3 separate regions of the Homo sapiens genome follow, and all the other regions are linked to region 1. Evidence: fine-mapped expression QTL. A gene starts in region 1. Each other region holds a variant in brackets. All regions are shown on one strand. Distances are between the middles of the regions.

Region 1 (4,242 bases):
TTCCACTTCAGCCTCATGCAGGCACTGACCCTGCCAAGTGTCCAGCACTAGAGAGGCCAGGCATAATAGACATATCCTTTGGTCTTGGGAGGATCACGACACCCTCCTACAGGAAGATCTTGCAATTGTTTCCTCACCTCTTCTGGTTTTTTGATCTTACCTTTTGCCTCTGATGATAATTACCCTTTAATTACCACCCACCACCTTGTCATCTAAATAATTATAGTAAGTGCAGCCTGCACCTCTGCCAGAAGATCTTTAAACAAAATGATAAAAACAAGTTCCTAAACTGCCAATTAAAAAAAGAGACAAAACTGACCCAAATAAAACAGTCATGTGCATCCCACCCACAGTGGAAGACATGGACTTGTTTTTCATATAAACTACAGAAGAAGTTGATTTATTTTGAAACAAGAAAAAGTACTGATTCAGTATTTAGGAAATTGTAAATGTCAGAATATAAATTCTGCAGTCAGGTAGGCAAAACAATCCAACCACACTAAAATCCACCTTAAATTCCTCTTGGGAAGAGCTGCAGGGTCTCTGAACTATTTTTCCTTTATTTGGAGTTTCCCCGATTATACCGGAGGGAGCTGGATAACTTCTGGGTGCATTAAAAGCAAATTATCCATTTGTGGGAGAAGGGCGGGCTTCTCACTGAAAGCAATTAGTAGTTTTCTAATTTCCCAGGTGGGTCTCCATTAACCGCCTAACAAACACCAAGGCTGTCGGAGTCCGACGAATCATGCACCTCTCTTAGGGGGAACTGGTTGCGCTACTCTTTAGAACGCTGTTTTCCCATGGTAGCCTTAAAAAAAACTTACCAATTTTCTGAATTAGGTAACACATTGAATGGGAAAAACCTAAGATAGCACAAAAAGGCGTACAGCGAAAAATTAAGACTCCTTCCTCCCGTCATCCGCCACCTCACTGTCCTCCCTAGAGGCAATCGCTGGTTCACTTCTTTAAACTTTTTATTATGGAAAATTTCAGATACACAAGTAAAGAGACTGTATGATGAGCACATATGCTCGCATCACGCAGCTTCAACGATGAAAAACGTTCTGCCAGCTTGTTTTATTCCTCTCCCCCAGTTTTCATAGGCGTATTTTACAGTCCTGACACCAGATCACTCTGTCAACACATCAGTAGGTCTTAAAAAAAAAAAAACAAAAAACCATAACCACATTACCGTTACCACACCCAACAAAGTTAATGATAATTGCTCAATACCATCCAATATTCTCGGGGCCACTTTCAATCGGTGAGGGGCAGACGGACTTAGAGGAAGGACTGCAGGGCTGGAGGGGCGCGAAAAAGCGAGGGGCGACGCTGCTCGTGGCCTCGGGTGTCCGGCGCCTCGCGGTCCCCGCCATCGTCACCTACGCCGGGCCAGGACCGACCAGGCCAGGTCGAGGGCGGCTCTTGACCACGCGCCCCCTGCCTCCCAGCTCCCGGGCGGCGGCCTCCGCAGGCCCGGCACAGCTGCACAGCCCGCGGTCCCCAGGCACCGGCGGGTCCCTGGAGGGGAAGCGATTGATACAGCTGCCTGCACTGCGCCACCCGCCCGGCTGCCCATCTCCGTGGCACCTGCGTCTCCCGGCTGGGCCGGGAGCTAGAAGTGGCTGCCGAGACCGGGAGGGCCCGGCCAGTCGCCCGCTCCCGCTCCCGCGCCTGGTCCTCGGCCCGCGACCTCGCGGACCTGGACTACAACTCCCGTCGGGCTCCGCGGCCGGGCCAATGGCGGGCGCCGGAGCATGCGGGGCGCAGCGCCTGCGCGGCGGTTTGAGTAAGCGGCTGCGCGATTGGCTGCGGGGTCGGGCGGCCGCGCGGGGACTGTGGGAAGCGGAGTGACGGAGCGAGCGGCTGTTGGAGGAAGGAGGTGGGGGCCGGGAGCGCAAATGGCGTTGAGATGGTTCAGGGCCCTGTTCAAACTCCAGCACTGACCATTCACCGGCGGAAGCGGCGGCGCAGGAGGCGGCGGCGGCCCAGCGGGGGCACACAGCAGGCTCTGTTACCAGCTCCAGCAGTGGCGGCCAGCGAGAGCTAGGCCTGGGCCCGGCCGGCGGCGCTCGAGGCGGGGAGGGAAGTTGCGGGGCCGCCGCTCCTGCCCCCCCAACCGGGCTTCCTATTTACCGAAAGCAGAGTCCCTCGCCTCTCTCGGCTCTCACCTGCCGGCCCTGCTCTCCCGCGCGAGGGTTCCGCGCCCGCCCGCGGGCCGTAGGGAGCGGGAGAGGCGGAGGCGGCCCGTGGCCAAAGCACCCGCCAGGCTCCGAGGGTAAGTGAGGTGTCGGGCGGCCGCCTAGGCCGGGAGGGAGCCGGGAGGGTGGGGGAGGCAGAGGCTGGGAGCGGGCGGTGGAAGTCTCACTGCCTCGCCCACCGGGCCGCTGAGGAAGTTGGGCAGGGGAATGACCTGAGGAACTCTTTTTTTCCCCTTTTATTTTCCTTTTTCGGAGTTCTTTTTCGGGCGACTGCTGATTGACTTAGCTCCCCAAACCCAGTCAAGTGTGTTGATTTCAGCCCCGAGTCCTTTCCCGTGGTTTCATCCGCCTCTGGCCGCCACTGGGGCCTTGCACTGCCTTAAGGATTCGGTGGCAGAGGCTTCCGGGGCGTCGAAAGTGACCTCCCTTTCCTGGGCGGCGCGGGTTGGGAGGAGAAAAGTTGCATTGAGTGTCTAGTCCGAGGGGTCCATCGCGCCCACTGCCCGTGGCGCCCCGGCTGTCCCCAGGTGAGGATTTCTGGTTAGTCAGGTTCGTCCCGTCCGCTTTCCATCTTTAATGGAAGCCCTTAAAGCCTTTGGGGATCGGGAAGACGCTAGATTAGGGTGGGAGTGAAGTATAAAGGCTTTTTGCTTTTTTTTTTTTTTTTTTTTTTTTAAATCACAGCGCACTTCTCTCAAAATTCGACCTGATTTTGGGCTAGGGCAAAAGCCGAACGACCGAAAAGACTTAGTCGTCAATCATTCTTTCCTTTTTAGTTAGGACAGTCTTTGGAGTTTAAAGGTTGAGCAAGATTGTGTACTTGAAACACTTAAAATTTAACTTCAAGGACGTCTGCACACTTATTTTGGAATCTGTAGTGCTTTACGCTTAGATAATGCCATTGCAAAGACATTTTATTGTGGGAAACGATAAAGGCAATCAGGAGGAGATATTATATAATGAACTTCTCTGTACCCATCGCTTGGATTTAGCAGTGACTATTAAACAAATTTATTTCATCTATACACTTCTCATTCCTTAATGTTGGAAAATCGCTGACGTTATTTCATCAGTATTTCACTATGTATTTGTAAAAGACGTGGTCTTTTGGCACAAAATTATTATTATCATTATTATTATTATTTTGAGACGGAGTTTCGCCCTTGTTGCCCAGGCTGGAGTGCAGTGGCGCGATCTCAGCTCACCGCAACCTCCGCCTCCCAGGTTCAATTGATTCTCCTGCCCCAGCCTCCGGAGTAGCTGGGATTACAGGCATGCGCCACCACGCCCGGCTAATTTTCTATTTTTAGTAGAAACGTGGTTTCTCCATGTTGGTCAGGCTGGTCTCGAACTCCTGGCCTCAGGTGATCTGCCCGTCTTGGCTTCCCAGAGTGCTGGAATTACAGGCGTGACCTGCCGCCCCCAGCCAGCACAAAATTATTTTTTATCACATAAAATAATTAAGTCCTTAGTGTCAGGTATTCATCTGAAGACTTCAAACTTTCAACAGTGAATGCTTTGTGGTTATAGAACCATTTTAACAGTTTTTCTGATGTTGGCATAAAGGAACTCAAGTCTAGATTTTTGGTTTGGCCTTTGGTTAGTATTTTTAGATGATTAGCACATAAGTGAATCCAAAACATTCCATCTTTGTTGGTGTGTATGTGTACGTACACTTACAGACCTGCAGGATCTCAGCTTTACATTCTTGAAGGAACAGAGAATCGATTTTTATTTTGTTGTCCGTGGTAGTTGCCCAGTATCCTGTTTTGTTTAGGCTGTACTTAACAAGAAAGACAGTAAGACTTGTTAGTGTTAGAGCTGCAGTGGAAGATGAAATACATCTCCTTCAGGAACACTGTTTTCTCTTAACGCAGATATGTATGATGACTAAATTATTACCTTGTCAAATTAAAATTGGGTTCTCACCAAACATGGGGGGGGGTCTACTACTGAATTTATATAAAACTCAGACAGTGACTCATTATAAATGGTAAGAATTTAAGTTAATCAAGGGAAAACAAGTGTAGATCAAAACATA
Region 2 (4,242 bases), 22 kb before region 1:
AAGACCAGCCTGGCCAACATGGTGAAACCCTGCCTCTACCAAAAATACAAAAATTAGCTGGACATGGTGGCACGTTCCTGTAGTCCCAGCTACTCGGGAGTCTGAGGCAGGATAATCACTTGAACACGGGAGATGCAGGTTGCAGTGAAATGAGATCATGCCATTGCACTGCAGCCTGGATGACAAGAGTGAAACTCCATATCAAAATAAATAAATAAATAATTGTCAATATATTTATGTCTCATTTCCCTAACTGTATTATTTTGTTCACTATTCCATATATATTTTGGAGTAGGAATCACGCATCAGGTGCTGTGCAGGGTCCTGAGGGTCACAGAAAGAATAAAGCCAGATTATCCCGCCCTTGAGTAACTCAATCTAGGTAGCACTTGCCTGGATGTGTATTGTATAGTGAGCTAGATGAATATTGTTTATATAGTGAGCAGTGTTTAAATAAAGTTAGAATTAGTTGGCAACATTTAAAAATCAGGAGACTTCACATGAAAAGCTAGATTAATCATTTCTTTTGAAATATGGAAAGATCTGGCAGTTCTGGGTCCTCTCTGTCCCACGGCTATTGTCAGCTGGAGGGGAGCATCTGTCATCCCTTTTGGCAGGGCCTGAGTTTGCCCAGTTCCCTGCAGGCCCCACCACCCCCTCCACCACAGAGAGAGAAGGCACACCTTGGCACAGGACCAGTTCCTGCCCTTCCAAACCACATGGGTGGCTTTGCCTTTACATGGTTGTTGCAAACAAAACAAACAGTCCTAACTGCCAGTCATTTAAAAAGGAATAGTATCCCTCGCCGGATTATTAGGGGGGCATGGTGGCAGGCGCCTGTAATGCCAGCTGCTCAGGAGGCTGAAGCATAAGAATCGCTTGAACCCAGGAGGCAGAGATTGCAGTGAGCCGAGATCGCACCACTGCACTCCAGCCTGGGCAACACAGTGAGACCCTGTCTGGAAAAAAAAAATAGGATAATATTCCTCTTTCTATGTCAGGAATACTGGATGCACTAACAGAGGTGGATGCTCTGAGGCTCTGAGGCTTCAGTCTGCAGGACCTCCCCTCAGCCCATCTTCTTGCCAGGTACTAGGTAGTTCATATTAAAACAGATGTAGCTTTTAGGCTAAGTGTGGTGGCTCATGCCTGTAATCCCAACATTTTGGGAGGCTGAGGTGAGTGGATTGCTTGAGTCCAGGAGTTTGATACCAGCCTGGGCAACATAGTGAGACCCCTGTCTCTACAGAAAACAGAAAAAAATAGCCAGCCAGCCTGGGCAACACAGTGAGACCCATCTCTACAAAAAAAAAATATAAAAATTAGCTGGGCATGGTGGTGCATGCCTGTAGTCCCTGCTACTTGGGAGGCTGAGGCAGGAGGATTGATTGAGCCCAGGTGGTGAAGGCTACAGTAAGCCATGATTGTGCAACTACACTCCAGCCTAGGTGACAGAGCAAGACTCCGTCTCAAAAATCAAACCCAAACAAACAGATGTAATTTTAAAAATAACAGACTTAATTAGCTGGGTGTGGTGGCACGTGCCTGTAGTCCCAGCTACTCGGGAGGTTGAGGCAAGAGAATCGCTTGAATCTGGGAGGCGGAGGTTGCAGTGAGCAGAGATTGTGCCACTGCACTCCAGCCTGGGTGACAGAGTGAGACTCTGTCTCTAAATAAATAAATAAATAAACCGACTTTATTTTTAGAACAGTTTTAGATTTACAGAAAAATTGGCCGAG[C/G]ATGGTGACTCATGCCTGTAATCCCAGCACTCTGGGAGGCTGAGGCCGGCAGATTACTTGAGGTCAGGAGTTTGAGACCAGCCAGGCCAACATGGTAAAACCTCGTTTTTACTAAAAATACAAAAACTAGCCGGGCATGGTGGTGGGCGCCTGTAATCCCAGATACTCGGGAGGTGGAGGTTGCAGTGAGCTGGGAGCCGAGCTCACGCCACTGCACTCCAGGCTCGGGGACAGAGCGAAACTCCATCTAAAAAAAAAAAAAAAAGATTTGCAGAAAAATTGACAAAATAGTACAGAAAATTTCCATATACCTTACATCCAGTTTCCCCTATTATTAATATCTTACCTTAGTATGGTATACTTGTTAAAATTAATGAACAAATATGGATATAATATCACTAACTAAAGTCCATACTTTATTCAGCTTTTCTTGATTTTTACCTAATAGCCTTCTCATGTGGCAGGAGCCCATCCAGGATACCATATTACATTTACTTGTCACGTCCCCTTAAGCTGCTCTTAGCTGGGACAGTTTGTCTGACTTTCCTTATTTTAATGACTGTGACAATTTTTTTTTTGAGACAGGGTCTGGCTGTCACCCAGCCTGGTGTACAGTGGACTGATCTTGGCCCATTGCAACCTCCACCTCCCGGGCTCAAGCCATCCTCCCACCTCAGCCTCTTGAGTAGCTGGGACTACATGTGTGCACCACTACACTGGCTAATTTTTTTGTATTTTTTGTAGAGATGGGGTTTCACCATGTTCCCCACGCTGGTCTTGAACTTCTGAGCTCAAACTATCCACCTGCCTCAGCCTCCCACAGTGCTGGAATGACAGGTATGACCCCACTGCACCTGGCCGACCATGACAATTTTAAGGGGTACTTTAAGTTCAGTGTTTTTGTTGTTGTTGTTGTGTTGTGTTTTGTTTTTTTTCTTTTTTGAGACAGAGTCTTGCTCTGTCACCCAGGCTGGAGTGCAGTGGCGTGATCTCAGCTCACTACAACCTCCACCTCCCAGGTTCAAGTGATTCTCCTGTCTCAGCCTTCTGAGTAGCTGGGATTACAGGCGTCCACCACCATGCACAGCTAATTTTTTTGTATTTTTAGTAGAGACAGGGTTTCACCAGTTGGCCAGGCTGGTTTTGAACTCCTGACCTCAAGTGATCTGCCCACCTTGGCCTCCCAAAGTGCTAGGATTACAGGCGTGAGCCACTGCACCCGGCCAAGTTCAGTGTTTTGTAGTATATCTAATAGAATTTATTTGGTGTTTTTCTCATGGTTGAACTAAGGGTGTGGATTTTTAGGAGTAGAACCACAAGGTAAAGTCCCATTTTCTTCTTCTTTTTTTTTAGATGGAGTCTTGCTCTGTCGCCCAGGGTGGAGTACAGTGGCGTGATCTCGACTCACTGCAACTTCTGCCTCCCAGGTTCAAGCAATTCTTCCTGCCTCAACCTCCCGAGTAGCTGGGACTACAGGCATGCACCACCACACTCAGCTAACTTATGTATTTTTAGTAGACACGGGGTTTCACCATATTGGCCAGGCTGGTCTTGAACTCCTGACCTCGTGATCCACCAGCCTGAGTCTCCCAAAGAGCTGGGATTACAGGTGTGAGCCCCCATGCCCGACCAAAGTCCCAAAGTCCCATTTTCATCACATCATATCAAGGGTACATACTCTCCCCTTTTTTTTTTTTTTTTTTTTTTTTTTTTGAGACGGAGTCTCTCTGTTGCCCAGGCTGCAGTGCAGTGGTGCGATCTTGATCTCTCTCGGCTCACTGCTACCTCCACCTCCCAGGCTCAAGTGATTCTCCTGCCTCAGCCTCCATAGTAGCTGGCATTACAGGTGCCCACTGCCACCCCCGGCTAATTTTTGTATTTTAGGGTATATACTCTCAAAATGACCTATCAATATGACATATCAATGACTTGATCACTTGGCTGAGGTAGTATTTGTCAGATTTCTCCATGCAGTTTTTTTTTCTCTTTTTCTATATGTACTCTTTGGAAGGAAGTCACTAAGTACAACCTACACTGAAGGAGTGTGGAGTAATGTTCCCTTCCCTGAGGGCACAGTAGCCATATTAATTATTTGGTATTCTTCTGCATGGGAGATTTATCTGTAATTCTCCTTTTATCTATTCAATCATGTATTTATATTGGTACAGACTCACAGATATTTATTTTATACTTTGGTTCATAATCCAATATTATTGATTTTGTTTCTTAAATTGTTCCTGCTTTGGCCACTGGGAGCTCTTTTCCATTTGTCTTTGTTTTTGCTGTTTTTGAGACAGGGTCTCATTCTGTTGCCAAGGCTGGAGTGCAGGGGTGCGATCTTGGTTCATTGCAGCCTCAACCTCCTGGACTGAAGTGATCCTTCTACTTTAGCCTCCTGAGTAACAGTGACTACAGACAGGCACCACAGACATGTGCCACTATGCCTGGCTAATTTTTGTAGTTTTTGTAGAAATGAGGTTTCACCATGCTGCCCATGTTGGCC
Region 3 (4,242 bases), 93 kb after region 1:
GACCTTCTAGTTTCACGATAAAACCACAATGGTCAAGACCATGTATTCGCATGAGGACAAGATCAATACAATGAAGGCAGAGCCTAGAAATAGGTCAACAGATACACGGTCAACTGATTTTTGACAGAGGCACCAGAGCAATTTAATGTAGAAATTAAAATATTTTTAACAAATGGTTATGAAACAAGTGAATACCCATATTTAAAAAAAAAATCTTGACCCTTACCTTATGCTAAACATAAAAATTAATTCCATATGGATCATAGATCTCAATGTAAAAGCTAAAACTATAAAGCTACTACAAAAAGAAAGAACGAGGCCAGGCGTGGTGGCTCAGGCCTGTAATCCCAGCACTTTGGGAGGCTGAGGCAGGCAGATTGCCTGAGCTCAGGTGTTCGAGACCAGCCTGGGCAACATGATGAAACCCCGTCTCTACTAAAACACAAAAAATTAGCTGAGCGTGACAGCCTGTGCCTGTAGTCCCAGCTACTTGGGAGGCTAAGGTGGAAGGATCACCTGAGCCCAGGAGATGGAGGCTGCAGTGAGTGGAGATCATGCCACTGTACTCCAGCCTGGGAGATAGAGCCAGACCTCGTCTCAAAAATAAAATAAAAATTGGCCAGGCGTGGTGGCTCATGCCTGTAATCCCAGCACTTTGGGAGGCTGAGGCAGGTGGATCACGAGGTCAGGAGTTCAAGGACCAGCCTGACCAACATGGTGAAACCCCATCTCTACTAAAAATACAAAAATTCTTCGGGCGTGATGGCAGATGCCTGTAATCCCAGCTACTTAGGAAGCTGAGGCAGGAGAATCACTGGAACCCCGGAGGCAGAGGTTGCAGTGAGCCGAGATCGTGCCATTGCACTCCAGGCTGGGTGACAGAGGGAGACTCCCATCTCAAAAATAAATAAATAAATAAAATAAAAAGTGGCCAAGTGTGGTGGCTCATGCCTGTAATCCTAGAACTTTGGGAGGCCGAGGCAGGTGGATCACGAGGTCAGGAGATTGAGATCATCCCGGCCAACATGGTGAAACCCCGTTTCTACTAAAAATACAAAAATTAGCTGGGTGTGGTGGCATGCACCTGTAATCCCAGCTACTGGGGAGGCTGAGACAGGAGAATTGCTTGAACCCGGGAGGCAGAGGTTGCAGTGAGCAGAGATCTTGCCACTGCACTCCAGCCTGGAGACAGAGTGAGACTCCATCTCAAAAAAAAAAAAAAAAAAAAAAGATAAAAAAACCCATAAATTACAATGAGATGCTATTGTGTATTCAGTAGAATGGCCAGTTCAAAAGATGACAGCACCAAATGGTGGCACATCAACAACTGGAACTTTTTTTTAATGCTGTTGGGAATGTAAAATCATAACACCACTTTGGACGAGTTTTGTCAATTCCTTGTGAGAATAAAGTTATGCCTGTCTGGGCTGAGTGCACTGGCTCATGCCTGCAATCCCAGCACTTTGGGAGGCCGTGGCAGGAGGATCACTTGAGGGCAAGAGTTCAAAACCAGCCTGGGTAATGTGGTGAGACCTCATCTTTGCCAATGAATAGATAGATAGATAGATAGATAGATAGATTGATAGATAGATAGATAGATAAAAGCTGGGCATAGTGGCACATGCCTGTAGTCCCATCTGAGGCAGGAGGATTGCTTGAGCCCAGGAGGTTGAAGCTACAATAAGCCATGATTGTACCACTGCACTCCAGCCTGGGCCACAGCTAAAATATATATATATATATATTTTATATTTTATATATATAATATATATTATATTTTATATATTTATATATAATATATATTATATTTTATATATTTATATATAAAATATATATAATATATATTATATATATATTTATCTGTTCTTCAACCTAACAATTTCACTTTATCCAGAAGAAATGAAAATATTCAACAGAAAA[A/T]GTTGTGGAAAATGTTCACAGTCATTTTATCAACAAATAGCCAAACACTGGAAACAACTCAAATGTCCGTCCGCAGACAATAAACAAATTGATAGATTTATGCAATAATATACTACTTAGTAATAAAGAGGAACGAATTACTTTTTAAATCAACAACATGAAGAAATTTCACATTCATAACGCTCAGTGGAAGAAGCTGAATTTTCAAAATACATATAATACAGCCATGTGCAGTGGCTCACACCTGTAATCCCAGTGCTTTGGGAGGCCAAGGTGGGAGGATCGCTTGAGACCACGAGTTTGAGACCTATAATATGCATCAATTTATACAAAATTGTAGAACAGGCAATGTTATCTAAGGTGAAAACATTCAGAACAATTTATTTAAAAGACAGTAATAAGCAGTTAAATGAAAACCTCTATATGCTTAGAAATGTAAAAAACACAACCTGATAACTCATGGGTTAAATCAATTATAATTTATTTTTATTTTTATTTTTTTTTTTTGAGACGGAGTCTTGCTCAGTCACCCAGGCTGGAGAGCGGTGGTATGATCTTGGCTCACTGCAACCTCCAACTCCTGGGTTCAAGTGATTCTCCTGCCTCACCCTCCCGAGTAGCTGGGATTACAGGTGCATGCCATCATGCCCAGTTAATTTTTGTATTGTTAGTAGAGACAGGGTTTCACAGGTTGGCCAGGCTGGTCTCAAACTCCTGACCTCAAATGATCCACCCGCCTCAGCCTCCCAAAGTGCTGGGATTACTGGCGTGAGCCACCGCACCTGGCCATAATTTTTTTTTTTTTTTTTTAAATTAGAACTAGGCTGGTGACAGTGGGTCACACCTGTAATCTCAGCACTTTTAGGAGGCTGAGGCGGGTGGATCACCTCAGCCCAGGAGTTCGAGACCATCCCGGGGAACATGGCAAAACCCCATCTCTATGAAAAATACAAAATTAGCCAAGTGTGGTGGCACGCGCCTGTAATCCCAGCTACTTGATAGGCTGAGCGGGGAGGATCACTTGAACCCAGGGGTCGAAGATTGCAGTGAGCCCTGATTGAGCCACTGCACTCCAGCCTAGGTGAAAGAGTGAGACCCTGTCTCAAAAAAATAAAAATTTTAATTTAAAAAATAAATTAGAACTGGATGACAATGAAAATAAAATATATCAAAAGTCATGGTGCAGGGCACGGTGGCTCACGCCTGTAATCCCAGCACTTTGGGAGGCTGAGGCGGGCAGATCACTTGAGGTCAGGAGTTCGAGACCAGCCTGGTCAACACGGTGAAACCCTGTCTCTACTAAAAATACAAAATTAGCCGGGCGTGGTGGCACATGCCTGTAATCCCAGCTACTTGGGAGGCTGAGGCAGGAGAATCGCTTGAACCCCGGAGGCAGAGGTTGCAGTGAGCCAAGATCGTGCCATTGCACTTCAGTTTGGGCAACAAGAACAAAACTCCGTTTCAAAAAACAAAAAAAAAAGTTACGGGATACAGCAAAATTTTTATCTTTAAATGCTTATATTTGAAAGACAGAATGACTAAAATTGTAAAGTACATATTATTCATCTTAATGACAGAGTAAGAGCAATAGAATAAACTCTTAATAAGTAGAAGGAAGAAGATAATGGCAAATTTTTTAAAATTGGTGAAAAATGGATTCTTTGAAAAGTCTAAATTTTGAGTACACTCACCAAGAAGGAGGGAATAAAATACAAATTACAAAAGTAAGTATAAAAATCAATACATGTGGGCCAGGCGTGGTGGCTCACGCCTGTAATCCCAGCACTTTGGGAGGCTGAGGCGGGCAGATCACAAGCTTGGGAGTTCGAGACCAGCCTGGCTAACATGGTGAAACCCTGTTTCTACTAAAACTACAAAAAATTAGCCAGGCGTGGTGGTGCATGCCTGTAATCCCAGCTACTTGGGAGGCTGAGGCAGGAGAATTGCTTGAACCCAGGAGGCAGAGGTTGCAGTGAGCCGAGATTGCCCCATTGCTCTCCAGCTTGGGCAACAAGAGCGAAACTCCATTTCAAAAGAAAAAAAAATCAATACATGCTATCCTGTATGAAATAAATAAATATTAAAAAGACAATATATGAGTACAGAAACACTAGAGATTAAAAAAGTTTTAACTAACTACTCTGAATAAATGCATGCTAATGAATTTATGACTTAAATGAAGTGGGCAAATTCCTAGAATAATATAGCAAAAAAGAAAAACCTGGCCAGATGTGGTGGCTCATGCCTGTAATACCAGCACTTTGGGAGGCTGAGGTTGGTGAATCACATGAGATCAGGAGTTCGAGACGAGTCTGGGCAACG

Which allele goes with the higher level. Alleles are on the strand shown, and positions count from the first base shown. SD is a standard deviation of normalised expression in the study named.
For the expression in fibroblasts of the gene that starts at base 1,696 in region 1, G is the low allele of the variant in region 2 and C is the other (small effect, 0.25 SD a copy in GTEx).
For the expression in unexposed skin of the gene that starts at base 1,696 in region 1, allele T in region 3 goes with a lower level than allele A (small effect, 0.24 SD a copy in GTEx).

Evidence for each region. PIP is the estimated chance that this variant, and not a neighbour inherited with it, causes the effect. A credible set is the group of variants that fine-mapping cannot tell apart.
Region 2: its variant is the best candidate, but not a certain one, in a credible set for the expression of WAPL-DT in fibroblasts (GTEx, PIP 0.90).
Region 3: its variant is the best candidate, but not a certain one, in a credible set for the expression of WAPL-DT in unexposed skin (GTEx, PIP 0.82).

What each region holds. Positions count from the first base shown.
Region 1 is chr10:86,519,401-86,523,642 of GRCh38, reverse strand. WAPL-DT (WAPL divergent transcript) reads right to left here and starts at 1,696. Exons shown (of 2, transcript NR_186498.1): 1 at 1,234-1,696; 2 at 1-1,134. It overlaps WAPL (WAPL cohesin release factor), which reads left to right and starts at 1,851. Exons shown (of 19, transcript NM_015045.5): 1 at 1,851-2,278. RefSeq lists silencers at 1,238-1,797, 1,938-2,357.
Region 2 is chr10:86,541,736-86,545,977 of GRCh38, reverse strand. The region is part of intron 3 of LOC105378408 (a long non-coding RNA gene); the gene reads right to left. Among named protein-coding and RNA genes, the nearest start is that of WAPL-DT, 22 kb to the right of the region's middle. The variant C/G (reference allele first, on the strand shown) is at 1,740.
Region 3 is chr10:86,426,638-86,430,879 of GRCh38, reverse strand. No RefSeq gene overlaps it. Among named protein-coding and RNA genes, the nearest start is that of GRID1, 62 kb to the right of the region's middle. The variant A/T (reference allele first, on the strand shown) is at 1,921.